Linked DNA regions of Homo sapiens: regions 1 and 3 are each reported to be linked to region 2. Evidence: microRNA targets listed by miRTarBase, many of them from high-throughput screens and not tested one by one. Region 2 holds a microRNA gene; each other region holds the end of a gene's coding sequence.

What was found. The annotated mature microRNA hsa-miR-1184 reads CCUGCAGCGACUUGAUGGCUUCC and lies in region 2 at 3,041-3,063, shown strand. An mRNA with a match to its seed (bases 2 to 7 or 8) in the 3' UTR can be bound and repressed. Matches are read on the target gene's strand: a 7mer-m8 pairs with bases 2 to 8, a 7mer-A1 pairs with bases 2 to 7 and ends in A, and an 8mer does both.
Region 1: miRTarBase lists TMEM109 as a target of hsa-miR-1184. Seed matches in the 3' UTR shown: 7mer-m8 at 1,118-1,124, 7mer-A1 at 1,528-1,534 and 7mer-m8 at 1,710-1,716.
Region 3: the mRNA of NRBP1 is a reported target of hsa-miR-1184. Seed matches in the 3' UTR shown: 7mer-m8 at 3,513-3,519 and 7mer-m8 at 3,191-3,197.

The regions. Positions count from the first base shown.
Region 1 is chr11:60,921,637-60,925,626 of GRCh38, forward strand. TMEM109 (transmembrane protein 109) reads left to right here. Exons shown (of 4, transcript NM_024092.3): 4 at 138-1,807. The coding sequence ends at 529. TMEM132A (transmembrane protein 132A) reads left to right here and starts at 2,824. Exons shown (of 11, transcript NM_178031.3): 1 at 2,824-3,097. The coding sequence starts at 2,998. It overlaps LOC124902676 (a long non-coding RNA gene), which reads right to left and starts at 3,761. Exons shown (of 2, transcript XR_007062688.1): 1 at 3,583-3,761. RefSeq lists silencers at 2,720-3,079, 3,140-3,359, 3,400-3,469.
Region 2 is chrX:155,454,537-155,459,594 of GRCh38, forward strand. It overlaps MIR1184-3 (microRNA 1184-3), which reads left to right and starts at 2,981; the gene lies at 2,981-3,079. It overlaps F8A3 (coagulation factor VIII associated 3), which reads right to left and starts at 4,084. Exons shown (of 1, transcript NM_001007524.2): 1 at 2,378-4,084. The coding sequence starts at 4,064. The coding sequence ends at 2,949. It overlaps H2AB3 (H2A.B variant histone 3), which reads right to left. Exons shown (of 1, transcript NM_080720.3): 1 at 4,879-5,058. The coding sequence ends at 5,044.
Region 3 is chr2:27,441,391-27,445,380 of GRCh38, reverse strand. It overlaps NRBP1 (nuclear receptor binding protein 1), which reads right to left. Exons shown (of 18, transcript NM_013392.4): 17 at 3,759-3,814; 18 at 3,122-3,673. The coding sequence ends at 3,569. It overlaps KRTCAP3 (keratinocyte associated protein 3), which reads right to left and starts at 3,000. Exons shown (of 7, transcript NM_173853.4): 1 at 2,941-3,000; 2 at 2,618-2,802; 3 at 2,480-2,539; 4 at 2,101-2,307; 5 at 1,849-1,983; 6 at 1,320-1,432; 7 at 1,084-1,195. The coding sequence starts at 2,968. The coding sequence ends at 1,325. It overlaps IFT172 (intraflagellar transport 172), which reads left to right. Exons shown (of 48, transcript NM_015662.3): 46 at 1-85; 47 at 276-367; 48 at 860-1,004. The coding sequence ends at 949. RefSeq lists an enhancer at 2,323-2,865.

The DNA of each region.
Region 1 (3,990 bases), not on the chromosome of region 2:
CCATATCACTCTGAGTCTGCGAGAACGGCTTATTCCTTTGCAATGTGCCTAGCACCTCCCACCCTTTTAGCTCTTGCCCCGCTCTCCCCTCACCACTTCTCCAGGTTGGCTGACTCTGTGACTCTCTTGGCTTCCAGGTGATTACCTCGCCCAGGGCCTGAAGCTCAGCCCTGGCCAGGTCCAGACCTTCCTGCTGTGGGGAGCAGGGGCCCTGGTCGTCTACTGGCTGCTGTCTCTGCTCCTCGGCTTGGTCTTGGCCTTGCTGGGGCGGATCCTGTGGGGCCTGAAGCTTGTCATCTTCCTGGCCGGCTTCGTGGCCCTGATGAGGTCGGTGCCTGACCCTTCCACCCGGGCCCTGCTACTCCTGGCCTTGCTGATCCTCTACGCCCTGCTGAGCCGGCTCACTGGCTCCCGAGCCTCTGGGGCCCAACTCGAGGCCAAGGTGCGAGGGCTGGAACGCCAGGTGGAGGAGCTGCGCTGGCGCCAGAGGCGAGCGGCCAAGGGGGCCCGCAGTGTGGAGGAGGAGTGAGCCGGATGCCCCACACACCGCCAGTGTCATACCAAAGAGCTGAGCTGCTTCGGGGCCATGCAGCCCTCCTGCCAGCCCCCTGCCCTTTTCTTGCCCTGTCTCTGAACCTTCAGAACATTGATCCTTGCCGCAGCCCCACTAGCCAAGAGAAACAGAGAAAGACCATTCCCCCTGCCTGTCCTTGCGGCCCTGTCTTCTGAGGTTCTCTGTCTGGGGTTGGCTCTCTTAACCCTTTCTCTGCTCCCAGCCTGCCTCACCAGGGAAGGTTGGAGGGGCCTCCCTCTGGCTTCTGCATCTGCGCCAGCAAACATCACTGCCGTTGGTCTCTCATGACTTAACTGGCTTCCCTCTGCTGCTGCCTTGGCTTCCTCCTAATGCTCGTGCTCTCCTGTCCTTCTGAAGTTGCTCCTTGGCCAAATCTCCAGCTCCCTTCTTGTTTTCCTCATCCTCCTACCCTGTACTCCCACCAAACCATGGTCCTTTAAGGCACGCTCCTGTCCTCCTCATTGCCCAGCAGTAGGGAGGGGCAGGGGTAAGGGGACCTGAGGATAAAGGGTGGGGAAACAGGGTCCCCTGAGGCCTGTGGGGGCTGCAGGGGAGGAGGATGTACCTTGTGTCTCTTTCAAGTGCCTTAATCCGAGCCAGCAGGGCCTTCTGCTTGCCTGCTGCCATACTGTATGTAGGAAAGTGTTCTGTGGCTGCTTTGTGTCAAGAAAAGAGCAGTCACTCTCAGAATCTTGATTCCCCATCAGCCAAAGCAAAAGATGGCTGCTGCTTTGTAGGCATGTGCCTGCAAGTGGGACCTTGCTGGGCATTATATGCCCTGTGGGGGTTTCAGAGACCCTGAAAGAGGAGGGAGGACCCGCCTCCTTGTCTGCACAACTGCATGCACTTCTCTCCCCATCGCTCCACAACCTGAAACCGAGAAGGAGTTGCTGACCAGTGCCCACCCCGGCAGCCCGGGAGGAACACAGGCAGCTCCTTTCCCTTCACGTGGTCTGCAGAGAGCAGGGTGAGCTGCCAGCTGCCCCTCTCCACCAGGGTACCCTGTCTTGGTGGTTAGGGGCCACTTTTCCTTTGAGGCTCTAGTGGAGGTGGATGTCCTTCTCTGCCAGGCTTGGCACATGATGTGAAGAATAAATGCCCAATTCTTACTGTTCAGGTTTGATGTGGAATCACAGCTGCAGTGATATATATTTTTTATCAGTGCTTGGTTGGTTTTAAATAAAGTGCACGCTATTTTATTATCTTGTTCTGAATAAAATGTATTTACTCCAAGTCTGGATTGCTTCCATGTCTCCTCTACTGCTAAACCCATTTCTGTAGTGCAGCTCCGCCTCCCAATTTCTCCCTGTGGGGGCAGTGTGAAGCTGGCAGAGGGGAGAGCTGAAAAGGCAGGCTGGTACCAGGTACCCTTCCCTCCAGGAGCACAAGGAATTAGGAAAGCATGCCCCCATTACAAAACGTAGGAACGACTGGCACTGCTGGAAATGCGTGTGCTTGCTGGGCAGAGGGGTCACCCCTTCCCTGCAGTGTGCTGAGGTGGGTGGGCAGCCTGGAGAAGACTTGCCTGCCCTCCCCTTCACCACCCACCTGAGGACTTTCCTGTGCCAAGGTTTCCAGTCGGCCCACAGGCTGGACCAATTTTGCGGAGGGCCTCAGACATAATTTTTTCTTTGTAAGCTGCCCAGGGCATGAGAGTGTGCAGCTGGGGCCCCTGCTCTGGGCCTCTCCCCAAACTGCCTGGTAGGCAACACTGGGTCAGGACCCTTGAGGCTGGCCTTCCCTCGGGAGTGTTGGGCAACCCTCAACCCTCCTAAGCGCTGCAGGACGCTGCCCAGGTGGAGCTGGTCAAGAGACTAGAGCTGCCTGCACCTAGAGCCCTTCCTCCACGGCGGTGGCCTAGCTCTGTCAGGGCAGGCTCAGGTGGTTGGCATCTGGCCCCGTTTGACCCCCTCCCTCCTTTCCTGTCCCTGCAGCTCCCGTCCCATGTGTCCCTGAATTCTGGTTCTGACTCAGGTGTCAGATGCCTTCACAAGTGAGCTGCTTGTGGGGGTGGGTGAGGCAGAGAAAGTGGCTTTTTCTTCCCTGATCAGAAGCTTCCGTGAGGGAGCCACACAGAACTCACCGAGTCCCTCCTGGCAGAGGCGGCCGTCCTCTGTTGCTTCCAGGGACGTGGCCCTCTTCCCGACCTCGGTCGCCTGAGCGCGCAGGGATTGGGGATCCGTAGGGCACTAGGACCCGGCGGGGCGGAGGGGGCAGCCCATGTGCTGCGATTCGCTCCCTCCCACCCCACTGCTCCCGCTCCATTGTCTGGGAATTGCAGCCGCGGGGCGGGCGGCGGCGGCGGCGGCGGCGGCCGGGACCCAGCGGGCCAGGTGGGGACGGCGCGGAGCGGGTGCGGGAGATGCCGTGCGGGACTGGGGCCACCTGAGCCGCCCGCCTCGTCCCCGCCTTCTGTGGGAAGGATGTGCGCGCGGATGGCCGGTCGCACAACAGCGGCCCCTCGGGGGCCCTACGGCCCCTGGCTCTGCCTCCTGGTGGCCCTCGCCCTGGACGTCGTGAGAGGTCAGCGGGAGGGGAGGGCCGGGGCGAGGGGCGGCCGGGCCCGGCCGAGTGGGAGCGAGTGATGCCCGGGAGCCACCAACCTTTGGGTTCTCGGACTGAACCCTGAGCGGGGTCGCCCCGCAGCGCCCTGAAGGTCGGAGAGTTCTTGCCCTCGGGAACCTGCCCCCAGCCACTCGCCCCTAAGGCTTCCTTCACCTTGCACGACCCGGCAACTCCTTCCTGACCCGGGGCAGCCCGGCGCAGGGGCTTCCCCGTCCCGCACCTTCTGCGAGGGACCCCTCAGCCCGGGCATCGAACCCGGCGGCCCCGGTCCCGGGCGCACTAGCGTCATCCCCACTCCCTCACTGTGGTCTGTAGCGCTGCACCCTCCTAGCCTCCTTCCGCCGCCACCAACCCACCCCCCTCGGGAGTGGAAAGCAGCCCCTTTGCCTGGGACCTGCAACAGACGCAAGCCCTCCCTCCCCCTTCCCCCAGGGCTCCCTGACCTTGGCGTCTCCAGGGATGGCCGCATCCTTGCCTTCCAGAACCTTTGAGAGGATTCCTGTCACTGCGGGAAAGGGCAGCAACTTCCCTGTGCTTCGGGGTGGGGGTCGGACTCCCTTGGCCTGGGCTAGCTGGGCTGTGGCTGCAAGGCAAAGGATGCCACAGAAGACAGAGGGACAGTGAAACATTCTCTGCCCTCCCCACCGAGAGAGCCGAGCGCTGGGTGATGGGAGTCCGTGGGAGTCAGGCTAAGAGCATCTTGTAATTATGGAGGCAATGGAGTAGGAGGCGAACCTGAAGCCAGTGGCTGCCCCCAGAGAGCAGTGGTCACTTGTTACGCTTGGGGCAGGGGGCAGGGAGAGCCTGTCAGTCATATGCTCCTTGGTGGGGAGGGCCAGGAAGGAGGTTGA
Region 2 (5,058 bases):
GTACACTACTCGGGTGATGGGTGCACTAAAATCTCAGAATTTACCACTATATAATTCATCCATTTAACCAAAAAGCACTTGTAAGCCAAAAGTTATTGAAATAAAAAAAAATTAAACAGTTATTGAGCAACTACTATGTCCTGGGTTCTAATTCAGGGGTGGGCAAACTATAGCCCCAGAATTTGGCCCATAGCCTGCTTTTGTACGGACTGTGAGTTAAGAATAGTTTTTACACGTTGAAAGGATTGCAAAGACAAACATACAAAGAAACAAAGAAGACTGTGCAACAGAGACCACCTGTGGTCTGTAAAGACTAACACATTTCTATCCCGCCCTTGACAGAAAGAGTCTGTGGGCTGCTGGTCTCCTCTAACGGTGGTAGAGATGCCTGCACGGTTAACATTAATCCTTGGCACCAGAATCCTCAGCACCTAGGAACCAGATCTTGCCTAACACGCTAATTTCAGTCTTGACCACCTTCCTCCGGCGTAGCGGTTCTCAAACGTCTTTGTCTTTGTACTATTCACGTATAAAATATTCTTTCATAAGCAACATTTATCCTTTTGGGAGTACCTCACAATGGGGAGAAGGGGAACCCCAACAGCCTTTAAGGGTTCACTGCTTCGCTGCCACCATTTCCGACGGTTTACACTGTTTTAAGTGTGAATTTGGAATTGTTTTCAAGTTAAAAAGCAAACTAATCATGTCCTCTGAAAGTATTTGCTTTTGGCATGCTAGAAATCAGTGTTGACTTTTGATACTGATGTGATACATTACGAGGGAATTCTCAAAACTGCTGAAATCTGGCCTCGGCCCAGTTATCACTGCTCTTAAGCTTCTGAGGGAGATACATGAATGAGCCCACGGCAAATGGAAAACGAGGAGTTTTAGTGTTTCCTAGAATTATGCTCAGATACCCACTACCTGACCGTCTGGTTATCCTTCCCCTCACCTCCCTGACGCAAGGAGTTTGGACCAGAGGCCTAAGGAGGCTTCTCCTGAAGCCCAAATCCCAAACTGGTCACCAGTCATGCTCCGTAACTCCTGAACCTGACAAGAAGCCAGCCGGCCAGGTCTGCAGCCCGGGTTAAGAGGAGCATACCAGGAAAGAGCCAAAGAGCAAAAGAGCATGAGCCCTTCAACCGCTTTTACAATAATTTGGGCTAGGCGTTCAGGGCTCCGTAGGACCCTTCCTGGCAGCCAAGTGAGAGAAAGAGGAATGATGGTGGAATGGGCCTCTCCTGTGCTTCCCATTACTTCCACACTGTCGAAATAGAAATAGAAGCAGAAAAGAACACCCTACAAGTCCCACCCATTTGGAGGCACTCAACTCACAGTGACAACCCTCCACACCTCTCCCCTGCAAAAAGACGCAAAACAAAAACACCTACTCCAAACTGTGTCCTTACATCTCAGCCCCGAAGATCAGGATTGTGTGCAACTTCGGCCCAAAGGATGCATTTCCCCAGGGTTGAAAGTTTGAGAAAGAGGCTATATTCTGAAGAGTTCTTGTTGTCACCATCAAAAGGATTAAAAAGACGCAATAAATAAGAAAACAGCGTAGTTGGGGGGCATGCTCCATTTGAGGCAGAAAGCCTTGGAAACTTAAGTGTTCTCAAACGGAACGCCATCCTGCTTTGGGGGAACACGGAGGCTGCCTTGCAGTCACGTGATCGCGCAACACCAAAGGGCCACGCACTCTGATTTCACCTACTTAACTAAAAGTTGCAGCAAAATCCCTATTACAGGCCAGGCGTGGTGGCTCATGCCTGTAATCCCAGCACTTTGGGAGGCCGAGGAGGGTGGATCATTTGAGGTCAGGAGTTGGAGACCAGCTTGGCCAACATGGTGAGACCCCATCTCTATTAAAAATACAAAAATTAGCCCAGCGTGGTGGTGCACGCCTGTAATCCCAGGCACCCTGGAGGTTGAGGTAGGAGAATCGCTTGAACCCAGGAGGCGGAGGTTGCAGTGAGCCGAGATCACGCCACTGCGCTCCTGCCTGGGCGACAGAGTGAGACTCCATCTCGGGGGGGGAAAAAAAAAAAAAAAAAAAAATCCCTATTACAAATAAAAGCTGTTGTGATCCAGACTGCATATACCTCTGCGAATGGAACCAGAACCGTGAATTCCAATGCAAATCGATGCATCGGCACCAGACCCGCTGCACTGGATGTATCTGCATTGCAGTCACCCGAGTACGGAGCACATCATAGATGATCTCTGCAGGTTCGTTGCCCACATAGGAGGCATAGCGCAAATTTCAAAGGAACGAATACATCCTGGAGCCCAAACAGCTATCTGGTTCTGCTGCTGGCCTCCTGACAAGTAGGTAAGAGAGTCACATTTTATAGACGACGGACACCAAAACCACACATGAGGAGTACAAGAGTAGCTTTATCATGGATTTAGGGCTGTGGTTACAAGGAAGCTGTAAGGAATAAAATGACTCCCATGAAGACGTACCGTGCGGACGAGTGGAAGGAGAAATTTGGCCATTACAAAGACACAGGAATATGTTAAGAAGTGAGGGGCAGGATGAAATCATCTAGGGTAGGTATTTAGAGGGAGGGCGCCGTGCAAAATAAAATCCTCACTATGAAACAAAGGCGGAGGCAGGAGGCTGCGTTGGGTGGAAGCAGCGGAGGAAGGAGACGAAAGGGATTGTCATTTTCATGTCGTGGCTTTTTAGAAGACAGCCATGTCCTCTACTCTGATTCTATCAAAATGTGTTCTCGGGGTGCTGGTAACGTTCAGCCAACGAAATAATTCCTATGGCGGCAGTAGGAATAACAAAACGCAGAAGCGGGAACGATGTCTTTTTATTCCTCCCCAGACGCAAACGTGGATGCATGAGGTTTGGTAACAGGCAAAGTCATCTGGTTAACGTGACTGATGCAAAAAGTCCCGGCCTGGGCAAAAAGAAGTCACTGGGTGAATGGGATGGATCAGACTCCCTGTCCTGAGGGGGAGATGGTTTCTTGCAGAACGAGGTGAAGGAGGTGGTTCTGCTCAGCAGTCAACAGTGGCCACATCTCCACCTGCAGCGACTTGATGGCTTCCGTGTCCTTTTCGTGGGTAGCCATGACCAAAGACTGGAGCAGCAGAAAGAGCTCCTCGGGAAGCTGGCCGCTGCTCTCCTGCCCGTGGCTGTCAAAAGCCTCCCAGGAGTACTTCTCCAGGGTCTGGGCGTGCTCCGGCAGCAGCTTGGCGGGCGGTGGTTGCAGGAGGAGCAGCAGCAGCACGCGGGACACCTCGCAGCGGACCAGCACGTCCGAGAAGGCGCCCAGGGCGGCGGGAGAGGGCGCCGCCGAGCCGGAGTTCGGAGGAAGCAGCGCGGCCGGTAGGGCGGGCGTCGCCCCGGGCCCGGGCTGGGGTGCCGGCGGCGGGGGCGGCGGCAGTGACTGCACCGGGTGGCTGCCGTGCTCCCGCGCCAGGCGCTGCATGCGCGTGAAGACCGCCAGGGCGCCGGTGTAGTCGCGCGCCAGCAGCTGGCAGGAGGCGGCCTCGCCAAGCGCCTGCAGCGCGGCCAGGGGCAGCTGGGGCAGCTGGAGCTGGGCGGCGCGCTGGAAGTGACCGGCGGCGGCGGCCGGCTGGCCCAGGTCGCGCAGGGCGGCGGCCAGCTCGAGGCAGAGGGCGGCGGCGGCGGCCGGCTGGCCCAGCTCGAGGTGCAGACGCACCGCGGCGCCCAGGGCGCTGGCGGCGGCCTGCAGCGGCTCCCCGTAGGCGGCGGGGCAGACCAGGCGCTGGCGCGCGTCGCGCTCCTGCCGCAGGAAGAGGCGGGCGGCCTCGGTGAGGGCCAGCGCCTCCCCGGGCCCGTGGAAGAGCGCCTGCTGGCAGCGCGCCACCGCCAGCTGGCACCAGGCCGCGTAGGGCAGACACTCCTGGGCGCGCAGCTCCCGGCCCAGCTGTCCGAACTGCTCGCCGGCCTCCGCCACGTTCGGCTTCCGCAGGAACCGCTTCTTCAGCTTGTTCGATACCAGCCGGTAGCGGGCCAGGAAGTCCCCGGCCTCGGGTCCCGGGCCGGCGCCGCCGCCGCCCAGGCCTGCAGCCGCTGCCGCCATGCTCGCCGCCCCAAGCACTTCCCGACGCGCCGCCGCAGCTGGCGGGCGGGCCGGGGCGGGGCGACGTGCCCTGCGTCCCCCTCGGCGGGCTGCCGCCGTGCCCGCGCCGGCTCCCCAGCCCGAGCCTGCCCCTTGCCCTGGTGAGGTGCAAAGAGCGGGATCGGAGGCGGGGCCTGGCCGGGCTGTGAGCGGCGTATGCAAATCGAGGGTCTCGGGGATGCGGATCCAAGACCCTGGGAAGGTACGCGGGGCCTGGCGGGGCACCAGCTGCTGCTAGCTCGGCTGCAATGCAAGTGGTCTAGGTTGCTAAAGGCATCCCACAGCCTCTCCATCTGAACATGACCCAAAGGAAACTCGTGACCCTAATTCCATGTCTGCGCATTTCTGGACTGTTGTCCCCCCCCCCCCCCCCGCCCCGACTACTCAGTCCTCCGTCTTCCGGTCCAGGGCCCCTTGCCAAGCACCGGGTCCACCTCTCCGTCCCCACCCCGGTTGCCTTAGAAGTCCGTCCTGTCGCAACACTGCAGTCATGGTCTTGAGGCCCACCCGCCCCAACGAACACCATCATGCTGAGGACTTTCCCGGGCAGGCCCTGACTTGCTCAGAACCAGCGGGGGTGTCCCCTTCCCACCCAGGGCCACTCCCCTGCACTGTCACCCGGAGAGACGGCTCCTCTGTGCCATCCCTGGCTCCCACCCAACCCCAGACCCCCACCACCTCTCCATCCCTCCAGCTGTGGAGGTCTCACAACCCCCCAACCCATCTCACCGCCCCCCCACCCCCACCCCAAGGCAAAGTGACTGAAGCGGGCAGATGGCTTCCTTGAAACATTTTATTGACAGAATTAATGAAGGCCCAAGACTTTGGGGCCTGGGTTGTGGGGGGAGGGTGTTTAAGGCCGGGGGTTCAGGCCGGGGGATTTGGGGCCGGGTGGGTGGACGAGTGGACCTGTCAGGTCCCAGGGGCCGGGTGTCAGAAGCTAGTCCTCGCCAGG
Region 3 (3,990 bases), not on the chromosome of region 2:
CTGCCTCGGGATGAGCGTGGCGCCTACGAGGCCTCCCTAGTGGCAGCGAGCACTGGTGTTCGAGCCCTGCCCTGCCTTATTACAGGTATAGAAGCCTACAGCACCCCAGATCCTGTGGTGGGTAGAAAGCAGCAGGATCAATAAACTTAATTTTACTAGGATTCAGTAAAGGGTACAAAAGACAGGACTGTGCTTTCTACCCCCCAGGCTGCTCCTCATTTTTCCCTCCTCAATCTCTCTCAAACCCCAGTTCATCATTTTTTCTTCCTCCACAGGATACCCCATTCTGAGGAACAAAATTGAATTTAAGCGGCCAGGGAAGGCTGCTAACAAGGACAACTGGAATAAATTCCTTATGGCCATCAAGGTTAGAGAGGAGGACTTGGAGAATGAAGGCAGAGAGGGCAGCACTAAAAAAAGAAAAAAAAACAAGTCTGGGTGCAGTGGCTCATACCTTTAATCCCAGCACTTTGGGAGGCCAAGGTGGGCGGATCACCTGAGGTCAGGAGTTTGAGACCAGCCTGGCCAACATGGTTAAAACCTCGTCTCTACTAAAAATACAAAAGTTAGCCGGGTCTGGTGGCGTGCACCTGTAATCCCAGCTACTCAGGAGGCTGAGGCAGGAGAATCGCTTAAACCCGAGAGGCAGAGGTTGCAGTGAGCTGAGATTGTGCCACTGCACTCCAGCCTGGGCGACAAAGCAAGACTTTGTCTCAAAACAAACAAAAAACCCACATACACACTAGAAAGATGGGTGGGATTACAGGAAGGCAGATGCAGACCCTGAAGCCTGCGATGGAGCTGATTTTGTATTTCCAGCATTAACAAGTTCCTCTCATGTTCTTCCATTTGCTCACAGACCTCCCACAGCCCAGTGTGCCAGGACGTGCTGAAATTCATCAGTCAGTGGTGTGGAGGGCTCCCCAGCACCAGCTTTTCCTTTCAGTAGTTGGTAGAGCTGAGGAAGAGTTAGGGCCTCTCCCTCATTAAAGTTTTATAAATAATTGAGACCACTGTATTCTTTGATCAAAGTCATTCCCAACACCACACAGTGCCTTTTCCCCAAAAGGAATCATAATCAAGTAGAAGAAAAGAGAAGTTACTTTATTACAATTTGTTATCTCATCCCGAGGTCAGGGCCCCTTGCTTAGTGGGAAAAAAAACCCTTTAGGACTGAGTCTCGGAACAGCACCTGCTGGACAGAGGGGAGAACCAACCCAGGTCAGAGGGGAAAGCAGCATGGCAAGACCTAGACCCAGTTCTAAGAGCACTTCCTTGTCCCCGCTCTTACCCGGGCCACCACCTTCAAGGCCCATTACCTGTCCTAAACCCAACTTCTCTGTGATGCCCGGATTTCTTGATTTTGATCCAGTAGCTGCTCATTTTCCTGCCTTTTACATTTAGGAGATTCAAGCTCTGTCATTTCCTCTAGCTGCAGAAGAAGATAGAGTTAGACACCCTCGCCCTGAATGATAGGTCAGCATCTTTTTTTTGTTTTGTTTTTTGTGACGGAGCCTCACTCTGTTGCCCAGGCTGGAGTGCAGTGGCGTGATCTCGGTTCACTGCAACCTCCGCCTTCCGGGTTCAAGCGATTCTCCTGCCTCAGCCTTCCAAGTAGCTGGGATTACAGGCGCCCACCACCCCACCTAATTTTTTGTATTTTTAGTAGAGACGAGGTTTCACCATGTTGTCCAAGCTGGTCTCAAACTCCTGACCTCAAGTGATCCGCCTGCCTCAGCCTCCCAAAGTGCTGGGATTACAGGTGTGAGCCTCCGCACCCGGCCGGTCAGCATCTTTTCAACACAGCCAGTCTCTGTGGAATGAACCCTTCCTGTTTGCCTTCCTTACCTGCCCCTGAAGTCCGTCCTTCCTGCAGGGCCCAACTCCACGTAGAGTGAGTGCAGCCACACAGCAGTAACCAGATAGAGCAGCCTCCCCTGCAGACATGAGCAAAGAAGGGATCCAGAGAGCCAAGGCTGTATCCTGAAAAGCAAGAAGGATGGGGAGTAGGAGGGAGTAGGGCAAGTGCAGCAAATAGGGGAAATTAAAAGGGCAGGACCAAGGCTTTGTAGACCACAAGAAGGAAGAGAATGTGCTCACATAGATTCTTGTGGGGTCAAAGGGGCAGTCAGTATGTCCCGGCCCCTCATCCAGTGGTACCAGAGGATCCAGCAGTCCTGGGTGGCAGTCAGCAATAAGGCGGCGGCCACCGTTGGCCACAGTGAGTGACACAGCAAGAAGGAGGCCCAGGGAGCAGGCAACGGACAAGAGCAGGTTCACCAGAGCTAGTGCCAGCAGGACCCAGTGCTGGCAGGGACAGGAGATCAGGGTGAGCAGCCTGGGCCTGGCTAACTCTCCCAGTGACTAGACACCCAGTTTCTCTGAGGCTCCTCCAATCTATTGAAAGACCAAGCTCAGTCAGCCCCCATTTCCCTGACTCAAGCCTACTCGTTAAAAGCTCCAGGGAAGTCCCTCTCACCAGTGGAGGGCGAAGAAGGTTCCTGGACGCCAGGAGGGCCACAAGTCCCACGGAAACGCTCTGTGGAAGACACAAAGCCTTTGGCCTGCTGGGCTCTCCGGGAGCCCGGCCCCCGCCCGGGTCGCCTGCCGCGCTCACCAGCAGCCCCGAGCCGACAGAGATGACATTGGCTACGGTGTACTCCGGCGTGACAGCGCCGCGGGGATTGGCCACGTGCCGCAGGACGGTGCCATGCAGCACGGCCCCCAGCAGCAGGTTCACGTGGCCCACCAAGATCAGCGCGAGGCCCACACGCATCAGCCGCCTGGGCCCCCGGGCGGCGTCTGCAAAGCACGGGGGAGGGCAGGGTTGAGTCGGGCGGGGAGGGGAGAGGCGGCTCGCGGCGGGTTAACCGCGGGCAGTAGGACGGGGCAAGGGTAGCCCCAGGGTAAGGAGACGAGACGCCAGGGCCCGGAAGTTACCGAAAGCGCAGAGACTGCAGCGCCTCATCCCGTCCGCCGCGCCAGCCGCAGGGCCGCTGTACCTGGGCCCGGCCCCGCCCCAACCTGGGCCCCGCCTCCGTCCCGGGTCCCCCTCCCACCTGGGCCCCGCCTCCGCCCCGGGCCCGCTCCCCCTGGCGGGAAAGGCGCGAACACACGACGCTTTTAGCAAAAAGTAGACTTTTATTACAGCAGCAACTGAGGCGAATCGAATGGCCCCCCAGGGCCACCACTGCAGCACCACCTTTCTCTCCCGCCCCGGCCGCCCCAGCGGGATTGTAGAATTCGGCTCCCCTAGTGCCCGTGGGCCTCCTTTCCACACAGGCTGGGCGGGAGCCGGCAGATCAGCGACTAGCCCCCAACTAGAAGGCGGCTGCTGAGAAGGCCCAGGCCCACGTCTGTGCAAAACAAGTAAACAAAGTGCAGAGGGGAGGAAGAGAGGGGAGGGGAAAGGATGATGCTCAGAACCAGGGAGCCCCCCCAGCCCTCCTGAATAATAAAGGAGGGAAGGGGCTTCACAGGGTAATACTGACTGGGGGGAAGGGACAGGAGGGCTGCAGCACGTCCAGGGACAGCCACAGCGCAGATCAGGGCCTGGCCCGAGTGAGCTCTAAGAGGAGACGGTGACAGCGGCTGAGTTGAGGGTACTGTTCCTGGCAAAATTGAACTTGTTCAAGGTCTCTTCTAGCAGAGAAGTCAACCGGCTCTGGTCAGCCTGGGGGAGAAGAGCTCAGTAAGATGGGGGCTGAGAGAAGAGAAGGCATGGGGGCAGCCAGGGCAGATGAAGGCAGAAACCTCACCTCACTAATGAAGCCCAGCTGCACCAGCTCAGCCGCCAACTCGGGGATATTCTCATCTGACAAAGAAACAGGAGGGGGTGAGTACAGTACGGGACTGAGGGACCTGGGGCCCTTCAGACAGCCCCACTAGGGCTAAACTGTCAGTCAGATCCACCCACTGCTTTAGGGTCTAAGATAGTCATTCTATGTGAGTCAATGTGTTACTGCCTTGTCACCTCCCCCACCCCTGAAT